Linked DNA regions of Homo sapiens: region 2 is linked to region 1. The links come from fine-mapping of genetic effects on gene expression. A gene starts in region 1. The other region holds a variant in brackets. All regions are shown on one strand. Distances are from middle to middle.

Region 1 (9,731 bases):
GAGACTCCATCTCAAAAACAAAACAAACAAACAAACAAAAAAAAAACCAAGATGAAAAGACATGCTGCTGACTAGGAGAAAATATCTGCAAACTACATATCCAACAAAGCAGTGGTATCTAGAATACATTAGGAATTCTCAAAGCTCAACAGTTAACAAAAACCGAACAATCTAATTACGAAATGAACAAAAGATATGAACAGACATTTCACCCGAGAGTATACAGGGGCCAGGCATGGTGGCTCATGCCTGAAATCCTAGCCTTTGGGAGGCTAAGACAGGAGGATCACTTGATCCCAGGAGTTCAAGACCAGCCTGGGCAACATAGCAAGATCCCATCTCTTCCAAAAAAAGAGAGAATAGACAGATGGCAAATAAGCACATGAAAAGATGTTCAACATCATTAGCCATCAGAAAAATGCAAATTACAACCACAAAGAGACATTACTACACATTTATTGGAATGGCTATAATAAAAAAAGTAACATCACCAAATGCTGGCAAGTATGTGGAGAAACAAGACCATACAGTGCCGGTGGGAATGTAAAATAGTACAATCACTCTGGAAAACAGTTTGGCTATTTGTTTAATAACTAAGCACGCACTACGACTTAGTGATTGTATTCCTGGGCATTTATCTTGGAGAAATGTCAATTTATGTTCAAATAAAAATCTGTACATGAAGGTTTGTAGCAGCTTTATTTGTAATAGCCAAAGAATGGAAACAGTAAAGATGTCTTTTAATGGATGAATAAACCAAATGTGGTACATCCATAGCCCAATAGCCCGGCTTCAATAAAAAGGAATGAAGTACCTTTTTTTTTTTTTTTTTGAGACAGGGTCTCACTCTGTCACTCATGCTGGAGTGCAGTGGCGCGATCTCGGCTCACCGCAGCCACCACAGCCTAGGCTCAAGCGATCCTCCCACCTCAGCTTCCTGAGTAGCTGGGATTACAGGAACACACCACTGCGCCTGGCTAATTTTTTTTTTTTTTTTTTTTTGTAGAGACGAGGTCTCACTATGTTCCTCAGACTCGAACTCCTGGGGCTCAAGCGATCTGCCTGCCTCAGCCTCCCAAAGTTGCTAGGATTACAGGCGTAAGCCACTGCGCCTGGCCAAGGAATGAACTACCCATAACACGCAACAACCTGGATGATTCTCCAGGGAATTAAGCTGACTGGAAAAAACCAATCCCAAAAGGCTCTATGAATCCTTTTATTTGGCATTCTTGACATGCCAAAATTAGGGAAATGAAGAACAGATTAGTGGTTACCAGGAGTTGAAGGACTGGGAATGGGAGGAATGTGGGTGTGGCTATAAAAAAGCAATGGAAGGGATCCTTGTGATGACGGGAATATTCTGTATCTTGAATTTTATTAATGTCAATATCTGGCTGTGATATTTACTATAGTTTTGCACAATGTTAGAGAAGTGGGAAAGGAACACAGGATCTCTCTGTACTATTTATTATGACTGCATAGAATAAATTTTTATGTACAATTTCTTAAAATTTTACTGTTTTCAAAATGAATTTCTCAATAATTTGTACAATGATCTCAAAAATTACCTAAAAATCTAAAAAGTAGATGATACTGTAGTTTTTTCTTTCCTTTTTTTTTTGAGATGGAGTCTTGCTCTGTCGCTCAGGCTGTAGTGCCGTGGCGCCATCTCGACTCGCTGCAACCTCTGCCTCCTGCGTTCAAGCGATTCTCCTGCCTCAGCCTCCTGCTGAGGCTGGAGGAGCTCAGCCTGTAGCTGAGACTACAGGCCCACGCCACCATGCCCTGCTAACTTTTGTATTTTTAGTAGAGACAGGGTTTCACCATGTTGGCCAGGCTGGTCTCAAACTCCCAACCTCAGGGGATCCACCCACCTCGGCCTCCCAAAGTGCTAGGATTACAGGCGTGAGCCACTGCGCCCGGCCTTTTTTTTTGAGACAGGATCTCACTGTGTCACCCAGGCTAGAGTGCAGTGGGGCAATAATGGCTCACTGCAGCTTGGACCTCCCTGGCTCATGCCATCCTCCCGCCTCAGCCTCCTGAGTAGTTGCGACTACAAGTATATGTGGTATATGCCACCATATCCGGATAATTTTATTTTTTGTAGACGCCGGGTATCACTTTGGTTGCTCAGGCTGGTCTCCTTGAACTGAGCTCAAGGGATCTTCCTTTCACACTCCCAAAGTGTGGGGATTACAAACGTGAGCCACCACGACTGGCCGAAATTGTGCACGTCAAATGGGTGAATCGTATGGTATGTGAATTTTATCTCAATAAAGATGTTATTTAAAGGGAAAAAGTAACTGAAATGTGAAAAGTGCGCTTAAAAAAAATAATGAGGGGCCGGGCGCAGTGGCTCACGCCTGTAATCCCAGCACTTTGGGGGCCGAGGCGGGCGGATCACCTGAGGTCAGGAGTTCGAGAATAGCCTGGCCAAGGTGGTGAAAACCCGTCTCTACTAAAAATACAAAAATTAGCCGGGCGTGATGGCGCGTGCCTGTAATATCAGCTACTTGGGAGGCTGAGGCAGGAGAATCACTTGAACCCAGGAAGGCAGAGGTTGCAGTGAGCCGAGATCGCGCCACAGCACTCCAGCCTGGGCGACAGAGACTCCATCTCAAACAAGACAACAACAACAAAAAATGAGCATACAGTGATCTTTATTCAACTTCCCAAGATCCAGTCCTCAGCTAATTTACAAAACTACAATAGTGTTACATACTCTCCTAGGTCTACACGGCAAAGTACAGTTTGACTGTTGCAACTAGTGCTGCCTTACAAAAAAAGGCTTTATCCCATGCCACCCATCCTAAACCCAGCTGTTCAGAGCAGTGTACCTGGAAATCAGCCTCAAAGTACGGACTGCAAGACAAGGCACAAGGAAACCCTAACACGAAGTCCTATGTTCTGGGCAAAGGGATGGGGATGGCAGGTGGGACGCACCCAGGTCAGGGCGAGGGCGCGGCAAGTTTTCTATTAAATCTCAGTAGATTACAACTCATATCCAATGTCTGATATATTTTCGAGGGAAAATGGTGCTTGAAAGATGTTTCTACGAGAAATAAGCTTCATCTCGGTCAATCTGTTCGACCCAACTTCTGGCAGCAGGTGTGGGGGCGGCGCCAAGGTCTGCGCGGTAATCCAAACAGGCAGTCCCACCCAGGGCCACCCCAAAGCCAGATGCTCCGACGCAACTCGAGCAGGCCACACTGTCTTTCGGACAAAGCGACGCGGTCCTCACAGGCGGGAAGGAGAGTGCGTCCCGGTCGGGAAGGACGCCGTCGGAGAGCGGCCTAACCACGTGACGCCCGCGGCGACCTTGGGGGTCACCCCTGCGGACGCACCGCCCTCTCCCTCACATCCGCCGCCGCGCCCGCCCCCCGCTCGCCCACCGCCAATGGCGCGTCGCTCCGCGCCCCGCGCGACCTCGGAGCCCGCCCGTACCCGCCAATCTCCGCCCGCCGGGCAGGCCCCGCGGCTCCATTGGCTGCCACGGCCATCCATCAGGTCCCGTCCCTCCTACCACCCTCCGTGAGCCCCACTCCATCCAGCTCCACTCCCCTGTCACCGCGGCGCCCGCAGCACCAAGGGCGCGGCGGCCTCCCCCTTTACCGCGATCTCCAACCCCGGGCCGCCAAGCGCCGCGACACCCGGCACTGGGACGGGCGCGGCGACAGCGCACGGTTACCTGTCTCCGGCTCAGCTCCACCCGAATGAGGCGCCGACACCCCACTCCGGGGCTCCAAACTCTCGGCCCCGCCCCGGCGTATGGCGTCAACACGTAGCCCTCCCCTGGAGAAGAATGCCCTCCCCTCTTACAGAGGACCGATTCGTGACGTCACAGAGCCGCGCCGGGCGTCACAGCGCCGACTGCGCAGTTGCAGAAGCCAGGGCCAGCTGGAGCCCAGCTGTTTGCTCCGCTAGAGAGATGAGGTTGTCTATGGACTTCCAGCGGCTTCTGCTATCATAAATAATTTCTGAAAGTAAGATATCTCTAGCGCCTGGTAGGAACCTATCAAGAGATAGTTGGGTTGATGTGAAACTTAGCGCACAAAAATAAACAATTTGAATAACAGAATCTCCGTTTTTGAGATTGTCCTGGGTCAGGCTTTGTGACAAGCGCTTCACCGGCGCTATTGTGTAACAATCTGTGAGACAGGTGTTCCTATCCCCGGTCTACAAATGACAGTTGGCAGTGCTGGGATCTTGCCCGGGATCTTGCCTGGGTTTTCTTGACTTTAGAGCTACCTATCAAAGATAAAACGTGGCTAATTAACCTGTCACAACCTGTTGATTGTAAGATGTTCCCTATTTTAAAGTATTAAAATTTGGGGAAAGGCCGGGCGCGGTGGCTCACGCCTGTAATCCCAGTACTTTGGGAGGCCGAAGCGGGCGGATCACTTGAGGTCAGGAGTTCGAGACCAGCTTGACCAACATGGGGAAACCCCGTCTCTACTAAAAATACAAAAATTAGCTGGGCGTGGTGGCGATCCCAGCTACTCGGGAGGCTGAGGCAGGAGAGTCGCTAGAACCCGGGAGACGGAGGTTGCGGTGTGCCGAGATCGTGCCATTGCACTCCAGCCTGGGCAACAAGAGCGAAAATCCGTCTCAAAAAACAAACAAAAAAAGGGGGCGTATAAGTGCTTATTATAGAACAAAGTTAGGGTAATGTATGTGACAAGGATCTAGAGACTGGAAGAGGTGAAGAGACCAAGGAACAAACTTCTGTATTCTTTTTTCCTTTTTTTTTTTTAAATAAATTACGGTAAAAATGTATGTACTAAACATTTGCAGCTGGGTGCAGTGGCTCACGCTTGTAATCCCAGCACTTCGGGAGGTGGAGGCGGGAGGATCGCTTGAGCTCAGGAGTTCCAGATCAGCCTGGGGAACAGAGCAAGATCTCATTTCTACTAAAAAATCAAGAAAATTAGCCAGGTGTAGTGGCACTCACCTGTAGTCTCAGCTAATTGGGAGGCTGAGGCAGGAGGATCTCTTGAGCCTGAGAGATTGAGGCTGCAGTGAGCTATGATTGTACCACTGCACTCCAGCCTGGGCCAGAGAGCAAGATACTGTCTTTTTTTTTTTAATGCCATTTTAACCATTTTTAGGTGTATAACTCAGTGGCATTAATTACATTCACAATATTATGCAACCGTCACCACTCAATTTCCAAAACTTTTTCATCACCTGAAACAGCAACTCTGTAACCATTAAGCAATAACTTCCTATTTCCCCTTCTCCTCCTGTCCTTCTCTCCTTTGGTAACCTCTATTATACGGTCTCTATACATTTGATTACTCAATTACTTTATGTGGGTGAAATCATAATGTATATGTCCTTTTGTGTCCACCTTATTTCATTGAGCATGAGGTTGTCAAGGTTTATCTGTGTTGTAGCATGGGTCAGAACTTCATTTCTTTTTTTTTTTTTTGAGACAGGATCTCCCTCGGTTTCAGGCTGGAGGGCAGTGGTGCCATCTCAGCTCACTGCAATCTCTGCCACCCAGGTTCAAGTGATTCTGATGCCTCAGCCTCCCAAGTAGCTGGGACTACTGGCACGCTCCACCATGCCTGGCTAATATTTTTTTCTTTTTCTTTCTTTCTTTTTTTATTTTTGAGATGGTGTTTCGTTCTTGTTGCCCAGGCTGGAGTGCAGTGGTGTCATCTCGGCTCACTGCAACCTCTGCCTTGTAGATTCAAGCAATTCTCCTGCCTCAGCCTCTCAAGTAGCTGGGATTATAAGCGCCCGCCACTACGCCCAGCTTATTTTGTATTTTTAGTAGCGATGGGGTTTCACCATGTTGGCCAGGCTGGTCTTGAACTCTTGACCTCAAGTGATCCACCCACCTCGACCTCCCAAAGTGCTGGGATTACAGGCATGAGCCCCCATGCCTGGCCAGAACTTCATTTCTTTTTATGGCTGAATAATATTCCATTGTATGTATATACCACATTTTGTTTATTTATTCATCTATTGATGGACACTTGGTTATTTCTGCTTTTTTGCTGTTTTGAATAATGTTGCAATGAACATTGGCTTATAAATGTTTGAGCCCATTGTGGTACCAAGCAGTGGGCTCACTGCTAGATGCACATAGAAGCCAATACTATGTCATCACCTTTTGAGAAAAGGCTTTATCGTAAGGTCGACCAGCAGGGAAACCAGAGGCAATACTCAAATTTGTCTCCCCAAGATGGAATCTGGGGGCAGGTTTTATAGGCAGAAGGCAACTATGAGGGAGATGGGAAAATACAACAAGGTGTGATCTGTTTGGGTCATGCAAAGGGGCAATGCTGGATCTTTGGCTTTTAAGTTCATATTGCAGCAAAACAAGGCGCCCCATGCTTCCTAATTTGGTGTCCATTCCTCCATTTGAGTGGTTAAGTCCTGCCTGTGGTTGACTTTTGTGTTCCCACCGACACCAGGGTCAGCTATCAGGCACACTTTGTTCATCTGGGCATACTTAGGTTACGTGACTTGCAGCCTGGGGATCTATTGTAACTGAAAAACAACTCATCATTTTGTTACTGATAAAAGTTGAACCAGGCTGGGCACAATGGCTCACACCTGTAATCCCAGCACTGTGGGAGACTGAGGTGGGTGGATCACCCGAGGTCAGGAGTTCAAGACCAGCCTGGCCAGCAGGGCGAAACCCCCATCTCTACTAAAAATACAAAAAAATTAGCCAGGCTGGTGGTGGGTGCCTGTAATCCCAGCTACTTGGGAGGCTGAGGCAGGAGAATCGTTTGAACTCGGGAGCCGGAGGTTGCAGTGAGCCAAAACCGCTCCTTTGCACTCCAACCTGGGCAAGAAGAACAAAACTCCATCTCAAAAAAAAAAAAAAAAAAAAAAACTGAATCAGATTCAACTGGTCCTGTGGTTACACCTGTTTATAATTCTTTTGCCTGTATACCTGGGAGTGTAATTTCTGAGTTATATGGGAATTCTGTCTAGCTTTTTCAGGAAGTGATAAATTCCCACAGTGACCGCACCTTTTTTGTTTGTTTGTTTTTGAGACAAGGTGTCAGGTTGGAGTGCAGTAGTGTGATCACAGCTCACTGCAGCCTCAACCTCCGGGGCTCAAGTGATCCTCTCAGCTCACGCTCCTGAGTAGCTGGGACAATGGGCATGCACAACCAGGCTAGGCTAATTTTTTCTGTTTTTTGTAGAGACAGGATCTTGCTGTGTTGCCCAGGCTGGTCTCGAAGTCCTGGCCTCAAGCGATCCTGCTGCCTCAGCCTCCCATAGTGTTGAGATTACAGGTCTGTCTCTATTTTTTTTTTTTACTGTCTCTATTTTTAAAAAAATTACTATCGGTCAGTCATGATGCCTCACTCCTGTAATCCCAGCACTTTCAGAGGCCAAAGTAGGAGGATTATCAGCCTGAGCAACATAGTGAGACTTTGTCTCTCCAAAAAAAAAAAATTAGGAGTGGTGACACATGCCTGTAGTCCTACCTATTTGGAACGCTGGGACAGTAGGATTGCTTGAGCCCAGGAGCTTGAGGTTGCAGTGAGCTATGATCATGCCACAGAACTCTAGCCTGGGCACAGAGCAAGACCCTGTTCCCCCACCTCCCCACTCCCCAACCAAAAAAATTTGGTGAGGTGTAGTGGCTTATGCCTGTAATCCCACCACTTTGGGAGGCTGAGTCAGGAGGATTGCTTGAGGCTAGGAGTTCAAGATCAGCTGGGCAACATAGCAAGACCCCATCTCTAAAAAAAATTTATTACAGCCAACTATAATAAATAGGTATGAGGTGGTATCTCATTGTGGTTTAGAAAGTATTATTATTTTTTAGAGGTAGAGTCTCACTCTGCCACCTAGTCTGGAGTGCATGAGCACAATCAGAGATCACTGCAGCCTTGAACTCCTGGGCTGGGACTGCAAGTGTGGGCCACCACGGCTCATTGTGGTTTTGATTTGCATTTCCCTAGTGGCTAATGATGTTGAGCATATTTTCATGTGGTGCTTGTCCATTTGTATATTTTCTTCAGAGAGCTGTCCATTTGAGTCATTTGCCCATTTTTAAATTGGGTTTTCTTGTTGTTATAGGAGTTCTTTATATATTCTGGATATTAAATCTAATCAGATATATGATTTGCAGATATTTTCTCCCATTTTGTAGGTTTTCATTTCTTTTTTTTTGTTTGTTTGCTTGTTTTGAGACAGGGTCTTACTCTGTTCCCTAGGCTGGAGTGCAGTGGTGTGTGATCATGGCTCACCGCAGGCTTGATCTCCTAGGCTCAAGTGATCCTCTTGCCTCAGCCTCCTGAGTAGCTGGAACCATACCACAGGTGCACACCACCACGCCCAGCTAATATTGTTATTTTATATATTTATGTTTTTTTGAGACAGAGTCTCGTTCTGTCACCAGGCTGGAGTGCAGTGGTGCGATCTTGGCTCACTGCAACCTCTGCCTCCTGGGTTAAAGCGATTCTCCTGCCTCAGCCTCCTGAGTAGCTGGGACTACAGGCATGTGCCACCACACCCAGCTAATTTTTGTATTTTTAGTAGAGACGGTGTTTCACCATGTTGGCCAGGATGGTCTCGATCTCTTCACCTCGTGATCCGCCCTCCTCGGCCTCCCAAAGTGTTGGGATTACAGGCGTGAGCCACCGCACCTGGCCAATATTGTTATTTTTTGTAGAGACAGGGTCTTGCTTTGTTGCCCTGGCTGGTCTTGCACTCCTGGCCTCAAGAGATCCTCCCACCTCAGCCTCTCAAATGTGCCAGGCCTCTCTTTATCTCTTGACAATGTCCTTTGATGAACAAAAGTTTTTAATTTTGTTGTTGTTGTTCCTAAGGAGTTTATCTGGGCTGTCTTGGGGGTGGAGAGGACTCTGTACCTAGAGAAGGTATTGGGTTTCTTGTTAACAAAGTGTGGCTCATGCTGGCATGGCAGGACTGGTGGGGCAGAAAGAACTTGATAGTGAAGTGGTGGAATTGATTGCTGACTGGCAGCACTTTCTGACGCAGTCTCCTTCATCTTCCTCATCTGGATGGAATGCGCCTGGCACTCTGTCACCAGGTGGTGATGTCCACCAGGTCAGGGCCCATGTTCCCAGTGCAGGTTTTGGGTGCCACTTGGAGGATAGTGCAGCCAGATGCCCAAACTCTTCACCTGAAGAGGGCGGGTTCTCCAACACCTGCCCACTGGAGACAGTTTCCACTGAAGGCTTCTTCAGCTGAGATACAAAGTGCCAGAGGCTCAAAGATTCGCATGGGGTAGAGGGTTGGTGTGCAGCTTTTGGGGGTGGTCAGGCAACACCCCCACCACCTTGTGTTCTTGATGTGTGCCCCAGGCCTTCCTGGCTTCTCTTAGTGCTAGCCACCACTCACAAAAGGTTGAAAGTTTTTAATTTTGATGTTGCTTATGTCATATCTAAGAATCCATTGCCAAATCTAAGGTTATGAAGATTTACCCTTATGTTTCTTCTATGAGGTAATGATTTTAGCTCATATTTAGATTGTTTACCCATTTTGAGTTAATTTTTATAAGTGACTGTGCAGTAGGGATCTAACTTCATTTTTTTTTTTTCTAAGACAGGGTCTCTCCCTGTCACCCAGGCTGGAGTACAGTGGCATGATCATAACTCACTGCAGCCTTGAACTGGGCTCAGGTGATCCTCCTACCTCAGCCTCCCAAGTAGCTAGTAATACAGATGCATGCCACCACACCTGGCTATTTTATTTTATTCTATATTTTATTATTTTATTTTAAGTTTATT
Region 2 (9,731 bases), 74 kb before region 1:
TGAGGGGAACCCTTAGCTACGGCTGGTGGAAGAATCTAACAGGTGATATGTATCAGGCCTGTGCAGAAATATTCATGAGAATGTTCATCACAGCCTTACTGAAAATAAAAAATGAGAATCCTAAGAGTCCATTTTATGAAACAAGTTATAAGATATTTCTATTAAAATTATTTTAAAAGGGTACGTAATGATATGAGCAAATATGTGGTAAATAAGAGTGGATATAAAGCTGTGTACATGGAACCCAGTTTCTTAAAGAAAGAGAACGTCCCCATGCACAGGCCATCTGTATGCCTGTGGAACCAGAAGAAAATATTCTTGTCGGGCATGGTGGATCACACCTACAATCCCAGTGCTTTGGGAGACCAAGATGGGAGGATCACTTGAAGCCAGGAGTTCAAGAGCAGCCTCGGTAACAGAGTGACATCCCGCCTCTACACAAAATAAAAAAAAATTAGTCAGGAGTGGTGGTGCACGTCTATAGTCCTTGCTACTCGGGAGGCTGAGGCAGGAAGATGCTTGAGTCCATGAGTTCAAGGCTGCAATGAGCTATCATCATGCCCCTACACTCCAGCGTGAGCTATGGGGCAAGACTGGTCTCAAACAAACAAACAAAAATCTAAAACAATAATGCCATCTTAAAAATAATGTATTAAAATCTATTTTTTTCTTTTTTATTTATTTATTTACTTATTTATTTTGAGACAGAGTCTTGCTCTGTCATCCAGGCTGGAGTGCAGTGGCGTGATCTCAGCTCACTGTGAGCTCCACCTCCCGGGTTCACGCCATTCTCCTGCCTCAGCCTCCCAAGTAGCTGGGACTATAGGTGCCCGCCACCACACCCGCCTAATTTTTTTGTATTTTTAGTAGAGACGGGGTTTCACTGTGGTAGCCAGGATGGTCTCGATCTCTTGACCTCATGATCCGTCTGCCTCGGCCGCCCAAAGTGCTGGGATTACAGGTGTGAGCCACCACGCCCAGCCTATTTATTTTTTTCAAGACAGGGTCTCACTCTGTTGCCCAGACTAGAGTGCAGTGGCATAATCATGGCTCACTGCAGCCTCGACCTCCCAGGTTCAAGTGATCCTCCTATCTCAAACCCCCAAGTAGCTAGGACCACAGGCATGCACCACCATGCCTAATTTTTTTAATTTTTTTTTTAGACAGACTCCTGCTCTGTCGCCCAGGCTTAGTGGTGTGATCTTGGCTCACGGTAACCTCCGCCTCAAGGGTTTCAAGTGATTCTTGTGCCTCAGCCTCCCAAGCAGCTGGGATTACAAGTGCGCGCCACCAAGCAGGTAGCTTTGTATTTTTAGTAGAGATGAGGTTTCTCCATGTTGGCCAGGCTGGTCTCGAACTCCTGGCCTCAAGTGATCTGCCCACCTTGGCCTCCCAAAGTGCTGGGATTACATTTGTGGGCCACCATGCCCGGTGCTAACTTTTTTTCTTTTCTTTTTTTTTTTTGAAATGGAGTTTCGCTCTTGTTGTCCAGGCTGGAATGCAATGGCGCAATCTTGGCTCACTGTAACCTTCACCTCTCGGGTTCAAGCAATTCTCCTGCCTCAGCCTTCCAAGCAGCTGGGATCACAGGCATGTGATCCCATGGCTAATTTTGTATTTTTAGCAGAGACGGGGTTTCACCACATTGGCCAGGCTTGAACTCCTGACCTCAGGTGATCCACCTGCCTCGGCCTCCCAAAGTGCTGGGATTACAGGACTGAGCCACTGCACCCGGCCACCCAGTGCTAATTTTTCAATTTTTTTGCAGAGAAAGGGGGTCTCACTATATTGCCCAGACTGGTCTCAAACTCATGGGCTGAAGCAATCCTCCTGCCTTGGCTTCCCAAAGTGCTACGATTACAGGCGTGAGCCACTGCACCTGGTTTTTAATAACAGATGTATTTTTATAATCAGAAAACAGTGAACGTCCTAAATGACTCAGAGATGTCATTCTAAGTAAGACTGATGTGAGCAGCAAAGCCGCAGGCTGGTGTGAGGTACCTGGTTGTTGACGACCACGTGCACGGTGCCATGAGTTGTGTAGGATGGCAGGTCGCTGAGGTGGAAGGTCTCGTACACAATGCCCTGGCCAGCAAATGCAGCATCCCCATGCAACAGGATGGACATGACCTGTAAACACCAAAGGAGACCCCAAATCCAGAATGTTCTGATTGCCAAGTCCACAAGGTAAACAGAGGAAATGCATCATTTGTTTTTCAAAAAATAACGTTTTGAGATAATTTCAAACATAGAAAGTAGCAGGAAAGTCCACAGGGCCCCAAATCCCCAACATGCTAGCACCTTGGTATATCTGCTCAACACCAACACACCCTGCCATCATCATCTGTTCTCAGCACTGAAAGAGCTGTAGACCTGATGCATTGCTAGGACACTCTCCAACATGACTACCCGGACCCTCTGTTCCGGGAGGGCAGCACTAGCTTAGCCATTGGCCCCAGACCCCACATGGGAGGGCAGCATCACTTGCCAGGTCTCTTTGGCTCCTCCAACCAGGAGCAGCTCCTCATCCTTCTTGTCTTTGCACCCTTGACAGACCTTGGGTCCCCACTTGGGAAGGACATACTGCATCAGGTCAGGTTAACTCTGCTCACCTGGGAGGCTGCTGTCTGCTATCCTCCCTTTCACTCACCATTGTTTTCCTTGGCAATGAGTATAGTGGTAGTATTTTGTGAGAAGAAACTTTACATCCTGTTCCTCCTCAAACCTCCACCCCAGCCTCAGCAGTATTGACAACTGCGTCTGAACCAGCCCCTTGGGTGGTTGATGGATGGCAAACACCAGTTTCGATTACTCCTAAATTTATTAGTTGGCATTCTCTGCAAGGAAGAGCTTTCCCTTCTCCCTTGTTTATTTACTCGTGTTAGTATGTACTCATGGTTCCTATTTTATTCGACAGGTTGCATTAATATTGTTAGTTATTTTAATGCTCACACTGTTCCAGGTTGATAGGGAGAGCAGCTCTGTCCAGCTGCCTCCCTTTCCTGTGAACAGGGACAGGTCTCTTTCATTCATGAGCACCTCCTTGCTTCCTGACCAACAGAACATTGTAGCTTCCATGTTGTACTGTCCCTGTCCAGCCCTGGACAATATCAGCTGTTTCTCTAAGAAGCCAGCTTCCTCCAGTAGAGGATGGGATTTAAGACCAGTATTTGTGTGCTCATCACTGCCAGGATATCATCATTTCTAGGCCCATTCCGCATACATCTAAAAAATACATGTGTGCATATGCAGGCGCACATATACATGGCTATTTCTGTGTGTGTGTGTGTGTGTGTGTGTGTGTGTGTGTATGCAATAAAACTATGAGTTTGTATTGATACCTCCAAATTTTAATCCAACACTTTCTAGGCCACCTCCTTCCACACCTATAAATATCTCCTACAACTGCAAGACACTCCATCCTCACTGCCTTTGATATGTTTACTCATTTGCTCAGTGTCCCCAATGCCACAATCATGTAAGCCCACCACCTCTACTCCTTGGATACACAGCCTATACCTCTTTAAAACCCTTGTATTAGTCAGAGCTCTCCAGAGAGACAGAACTGAGAGGGTGAAGAGGAAGAGGGAGAGAGAGAATGATTTTCTTTCTTTCTTTTCTTCTTTTTCTTTTTTTTTGAGGCAGGGTCTCACTCTTTCACCCAGGCTGGAGTGCAGTGGCACGATCTCAGCTCACTGCAACCTCTGCCTCCCAAGCTCAAGTGATTTTCCCACCTCAGTCACACAAGTAGCAGGGAATACAAGTACATGCCACCATGCCTGGCTAATTTTGGCATTTTTTTGTAGACACGAGGTTTCACCATGTTGGTCATGCTGGTCTCAAACTCCTGGGTTCAAGCACTCCTCTTGCCTCAGCCTCCCAAAGTGCTGGGATTACAGGCATGAGTCATCGTGCCTGGCCGAGAAAGATGGGTTTTTAAGGAATCAGGCTGGCAAGTGCAAAGTCTGCAGGGCGGGCTGGCAGGCTGGAGACCCACAGCAGAGCTGATGTTGCAGCTTAAGTGTGAAGGCTGTCTGGAGGCAGAATTCCTTCTTTTCTGGGAACCTCAGTTTTTTCTCGAAGGCCTTGAACTGACTGGATGAAACCCACTCACATTGTGCAAGGTCTTCTACTTTACTCAAAATCTACTGGTTTAAACGTTAATCTTATCTTTACAAAATGCCATCTAGATGGGTGTTTAGCAAAAAAAACCTGGACGCTGTGGCTAGCCAAGGTGATATACAACACACCCTCTCCTGCTGTGTCCTCAGCCTACGGGCCTACTGACCTGCACCTCCCTGAGTTCTTGTGATTACCCTGGTCCTCAGCGCTGTGCTGAGTCATCCTTGGTTAAGACCCATGATTTGTGTGTCAGGGACAAAACCTAGAATTTTTAAAAACAGAACTGCAGGTGTCCTGCCTTTTGGTGGATGTGGCAGGTGCTCACTAGGATAGCAGCATGTGGACGTAAGGATCTGGTTTGCTTACGGGGCCCCCTTGGAGGTGTGCAGCTTTGCTACGATGCCCAGGCTGCCTGAGTGTAAAAGCCATTGGTTTTGAGTCACTGACATTTCATGCTTTCCTGATCCCGATAGTGTGTTGTTTCTTCCCGCAGATACTTTTCTGTCCAGTCTGTCTTCTGCTGACAGGGCACCTGTAGTCAGTCTTCCTCTTGTCATGGTATTTGCTCTTGATCATCCTGGTGATGTTGTACTGCGACTACCATGCCATACTGCACTGTGGTAACTGTCTGCTGAAATCACAGCCAGGACACATGGGGAATCTCCTTGTGTCTGGCAGCCTGAGCCATACCTCTGGCAGGAGCGGGTTCTCCCTTTGCAGCAGGTTGCATTGCTGCACTGAGGAAATGCTTTCATGAACAAAGATCCCAAAGGCCATATTAGCACTGAGCCAAATCAGGTCTGTTTCACAATCATGCATGAGGTTATGGGATGACCTCAGCTGCACTTACAGAAAGTATGTAATTCTTCACGAAAAATGCTGAGAGTTACATAACACACACTCCAGCTCCCTGAGTTTCTGGATTTAATAGAAATCAAATCATGTCCTATGGGTGTCAAGAGGAGTAAGAAGAACAGGCAGATGGCTGAGCCTGCAATGACCCCACACTGACCCTGCTGGGGACATGTGAGGGCTTGAGGCAAGGTGACGAGGAGGCTCAGAAAGAGGGCCTGGCAGCTATCCACATTGGGGCAAGGGCAAACTTGTGACAACAAGGTTTGTGTAGACTGGAAAACAAAGGGACTGACAGTTCGGACTCAGCTGCATGCAGACTTATGAGCAAATCAGGGACTAACCAGCCTCTCCTGTCCTGGCATCTCATGAAGGGACCAATCAGTGTGACCATCTGTAGCAGTTTAAAATATACTCTATTGCTTTTACTCTAATGATTTCATTCCTTTTTGGGAAATTTCCAGCATTATGAGGTGAGTACTGCTAGAGTGGATTTCTGTCCACAATCTATGAATGTGGGAATCACCCAAAGTTTTCGGTAATCTCATTCCACTACTCAGCCCAAATGCCTGGGCGAGTGTCCTAGCCAAGGAGGGTGCAAATACCAGAGGCACTGGTCATCACAATGCTGATCTCCCCATGCCGATCTCACCTTAGCCCAGGCCATCCCAGACACCCAGTGTTGTTACTGCCTGCGGGGGCTGCAGGTTCCCCAGAGCTAAGGCCTCTTTGCATCTAGTTGAAGTTTCTGTGGCACTGTCCTGGCCCATGAGCTTGAAGCCATGGAATGACCTCTGCGTCCCTGTGGGTCATACTCGTTCTTTACAGTGAGCATTGATCGATGCGGGAATCACTTCCCCAGCCCAGGCTCCATTACCTATGATGACAGTTTCCCTTCCTCTAACACTGTAAGCATGACAGTAGTAGATTTACAGTATTTAAAATTATAGA[G/A]CCTGGTAAAGTAATAATTGGTTCCACTTCTTTTTTTTTTTTTTTTCCTTTGAGAAGGAGTCTCCCTCTGTCACCCAGGCTGGAGTGCAGTGGCGTGATCTCAGCTCACTGCAACCTCCGCCTCCCAGGTTCAAGCAATTCTCCTGCCTCAGCCTCCTGAGTAGCTGAGACTACAGGCGTGTGCCACCATGCCCGGCTAATTTTTTTTTTGTATTTTTAGTAGAGATGGGGTTTCACTGTGTTAGCCAGGATGGTCTCGAACTCCTGACCTCAGGTGATCCACCCGCCTCAGCCTCCCAAAGTGCTGGGATTACAGGCGTGAGCCACCGCACCTGGCCAATTGGTTCCACTTCTAACATAGACCTGACTTCTTTCCAGGGCACAACTAGGAGGCCGGCCCCTCCCTGCTCTGTGTCCCCAATTCCCCCTACATCTTTGCTCTTACCTTTCATCTCCAGAAAACATTCTTCCCTTCCCACCTCCCTAAATCCTGCCACTTCTCAAATAAAATGACAACTACCTGCTCTGCTACTAAGGGGTGTGCCTTCTATCCTTGGTCCAACTCTAGCCCACACCCCTGCACACCTCTTCCAAAGCTCTTCACGGCTAACTCCAGTTTCCTATCATGCCGTGTATGTGCTATTTGCTTCTTTACACACGACCTTTTTTCTAAAAAGAACAGGAGGCTCTGGAGAGAAAAGTGGTGATGCCTTCTTTATATGTTTCCCAGAACCCATACATAAGACATTACAAATATTTGATTTTTTTTCTGATTATTTGGTTTTTAGGTCATCATTAATAGGAAATATAAAATTTGTCAGACAAGATTCTATCTTGAAGTTAAATAAGGGCAAATTGTTACAATCTGTTGAGACTATTTCTACACAAGCAGGCAGGCGAGTCAACCCCCAACACTCAGTCACATGACCAGAAATGGTGAAGCAGGACCCCACCTGCCTGCAGTCTGTGCCCTCCTCCGTCTCCTACCAGCCCGTGAACTCCCGCCTCTAATCACAGCAAGCATGACTCTCCTGACAAGTCTCAGTTCTACAATTTCTCCTTCAGGCTCACCTACACTTTTTCCTTACAGAGACTCTCAGACTCCCCTCCTTTTCAGTGAAAACATCTCTGTCCATTCAGAATAACTGCAACCTGGCTCCTTAACAGATTTGGTGAAGACAAAAGCAAACTTCCCACATAGTTCTGACAATTACAACTTCAGGAAAAGGAACACTGTAAGCAGGACTGTTTTACTATTGCTATTCTTTAAAAGTTGATTTTAAATATATATATATATATATATATATATACACACACACACACATACATACATATACATATATTTTTTATTTATTTATTTTTTTCTTTGAGACAGAGTTTCGCTCTTGTTGGCCCAGGCTGGAGTGCAATGGCGTAATCTCGGCTCACTGCAACCTCCACCTCCCGGGTTCAAGCGATTCTCCTGCCTCAGCCTCCTGAGTAGCTGGGATTACAGGCGCGCGCCACCACGCCCAGCTAATTTTGTATTTTTAGTAGAGATGGAGTTTCTCCATGTTGGTCAGGCTGGTCTCCAACTCCCGAACTCAGGTGATCTGCCCACCTCGGCCTCCCAAAGTGCTGGGATTACAGGCGTGAGACACTGCGCCCGGCCGACTTTAAATATTTTTTTAAAGTCTAGATGCACCCAGGGCTCTGGGTTATGTTGGTGAGCGGAACTCCATGCTGGAACATGGGGCCTTGACGATCTGCCTTGCACGCCTCTCTCTGGGCCTTACCTTTTTCCCTTCAGTGTCGCCACAGTAAAACTGTTCGGCTTTGGTCTTGCCCATCACCACGGGGTCAGCGGCCTCAAGGTGGGAAGGGTTGGCCACCAAGGACAAGGTAATGTTCCTGTCGGTGACACGATTGATCCTGCGGTGATACATGCCCAGGTGGTACTTCACATCTCCGGAGCCCTGATGGGGTAAACAGTGAATTTGCACCCTGGCCAAGGAGATGCTCAGTCTCCAAAAGAGCCCTTTTATACGGGAATTTTTTTTTTTTTTTTGAGATGGAGTTTCGCTCTTGTTGCCCAGGTTGGAGTGCAATGGCGCGATCTCGGCTCACTGCAACCTCCACTTTCTGGGTTCAAGCGATTCTCCTGCCTCAGCCTCCCGAGTAGCTGGGATTACAGGCATGCGCCACCACGCCCGGCTAATTTTGTATTTTTAGTAGAGATGGGGTTTCTCCATGTTGGTCAGGCTGGTCTCAAACTCTCGACCTCACGTGATCCGCCTGCCTCAGCCTCCCAAAGTGTTGGGGTTACGGATGTGAGCCACCATGCCCAGCCTTATATGGGATTTCTACTCCCAGGAACCCAACGCAGAAGGATATGGAGGCCTTTTCCCAGGATCATTCCCATCCAGGGCATAAGGAGAACGTCCCTCAGCCAGAGGGGACACACCCCTGCACTCAGAGTGGGGCTGCTGGACCTCTGACCAGGAGGTGGGCCACTGGCCACCTTTGTCCCAACACTAAAATTCTCCCAACAAGGAAGGCAAATCACAAATGGTACAGAAGAACCAACCCCCCGTAAGTCATTCTAAGAAAGAAGTGGAGCCAGGGGTCTTGTGTAAGTTGGGGCTATGCTGGATGTGTCTCTATGCAGGTGCCTCACCTCATCAGCTGCCTCCAGCTTTGAATCGAATTGACAGAAGATCTGTTCCAGCTCCTTCCTGATGACATTTGCAAGCACGTTCAGCCGCCCTCTGGAACGTATGGGCGAGTAGGGTGAGCAGAGCCTGAGGTCATGGTTTCCAGATGGCAGATGAGGGTGTTACAATCCCCCCCTCCCCCTCCCCCCAGGACACGGCACCTCCTCGGTTTGCAGCCCAAGGATAGCTGTAAACTGGAGCTAATGTGGGAACCGAGCCTCTCCGTGCTGGGCAATCAAGGCCACAGTGGGCAGCAGAAAGATAGAAGATGCAGCAATGCCATGGGCCTGAGGCTTCCTTACCCTTCTCCCTCCCCACACCTTCCCTATTTTCACAGTCTTGGCCTCCCCTTCAATGTCAGGAAGCAGCCTTCCCTCCAGGTTAGACCCCAACAAGGGAACTTGGGTTTAATTTTCATAAAGATGCACTGTAAGGCCAAATGCCAGTCTGAAACTACATGTGGCTTTGGAGGTGACCATGACTTTGCAGTCCTCCAGAGGCAGGCAATGTGAGAATCCCCTGCAAAGCAATACACCCTCAGGTACCAGATGAGCCCAGACTCACAACTGGCACTCAAGGAGGAAACAGCTGCTCTCTCAGTGCCTTTACCTGGTGCCTCCTACACAGCCCACAGGGATGGTGAGAAACCAGGTTGGGCGCGCCCTTGGCTGTACCTGTGTGGCATGCCCATGATCACGTAGTCCACGCCATTCTCACTAGACTTGTCAATGATGGTCTTGAGGGCAGGGATCAGTACCTCGCAGCCTTCTAGACCAAAGCGCTTCTCAGAGGACCACTTCCGCTGTAGGAACTCCTCAAACCTGGACAGGGAACCAAGCCACCTTGAAGGGCAATGTCACTCTTCCTGACCAAAAAGAGGGGATTCTGGCCAGGCATGGAGGCTCACACCTGTAATCCCAGCACCTTGGGAGGCCGAGGTGGGCAGATCAGCTGAGGTCAGGAGTTCGAGACCAGCCTGGCCAACACGGTGAAACCTCATCTCTACTAAAAATATAAAAATTAGCCAGCCGTGGTGGTGTGCCTCTGTAATCCCTGCTACTCAGGAGGCTGAGGCAAGAGAATCACTTGAATTCAGGAGGCGGAGGTTGCTCT

Direction of the effects. Alleles are on the strand shown, and positions count from the first base shown. SD is a standard deviation of normalised expression in the study named.
In carriers of allele A in region 2, the expression in testis of the gene that starts at base 3,715 in region 1 tends to be higher than with G alone (small effect, 0.37 SD a copy in GTEx).

Evidence for each region.
Region 2: its variant is fine-mapped to the expression of OGDH in testis (GTEx, PIP above 0.99).

Annotation. Positions count from the first base shown.
Region 1 is chr7:44,600,611-44,610,341 of GRCh38, reverse strand. It overlaps OGDH (oxoglutarate dehydrogenase), which reads right to left and starts at 3,715. Exons shown (of 23, transcript NM_002541.4): 1 at 3,689-3,715. RefSeq lists enhancers at 2,726-3,065, 2,741-3,304, 3,556-4,155 and a silencer at 3,286-3,515.
Region 2 is chr7:44,674,119-44,683,849 of GRCh38, reverse strand. OGDH (oxoglutarate dehydrogenase) reads right to left here. Exons shown (of 23, transcript NM_002541.4): 7 at 9,293-9,439; 8 at 8,582-8,672; 9 at 7,701-7,880; 10 at 2,002-2,130. Among named protein-coding and RNA genes, the nearest start is that of ZMIZ2, 70 kb to the left of the region's middle. RefSeq lists a silencer at 5,491-5,704. The variant G/A (reference allele first, on the strand shown) is at 5,926.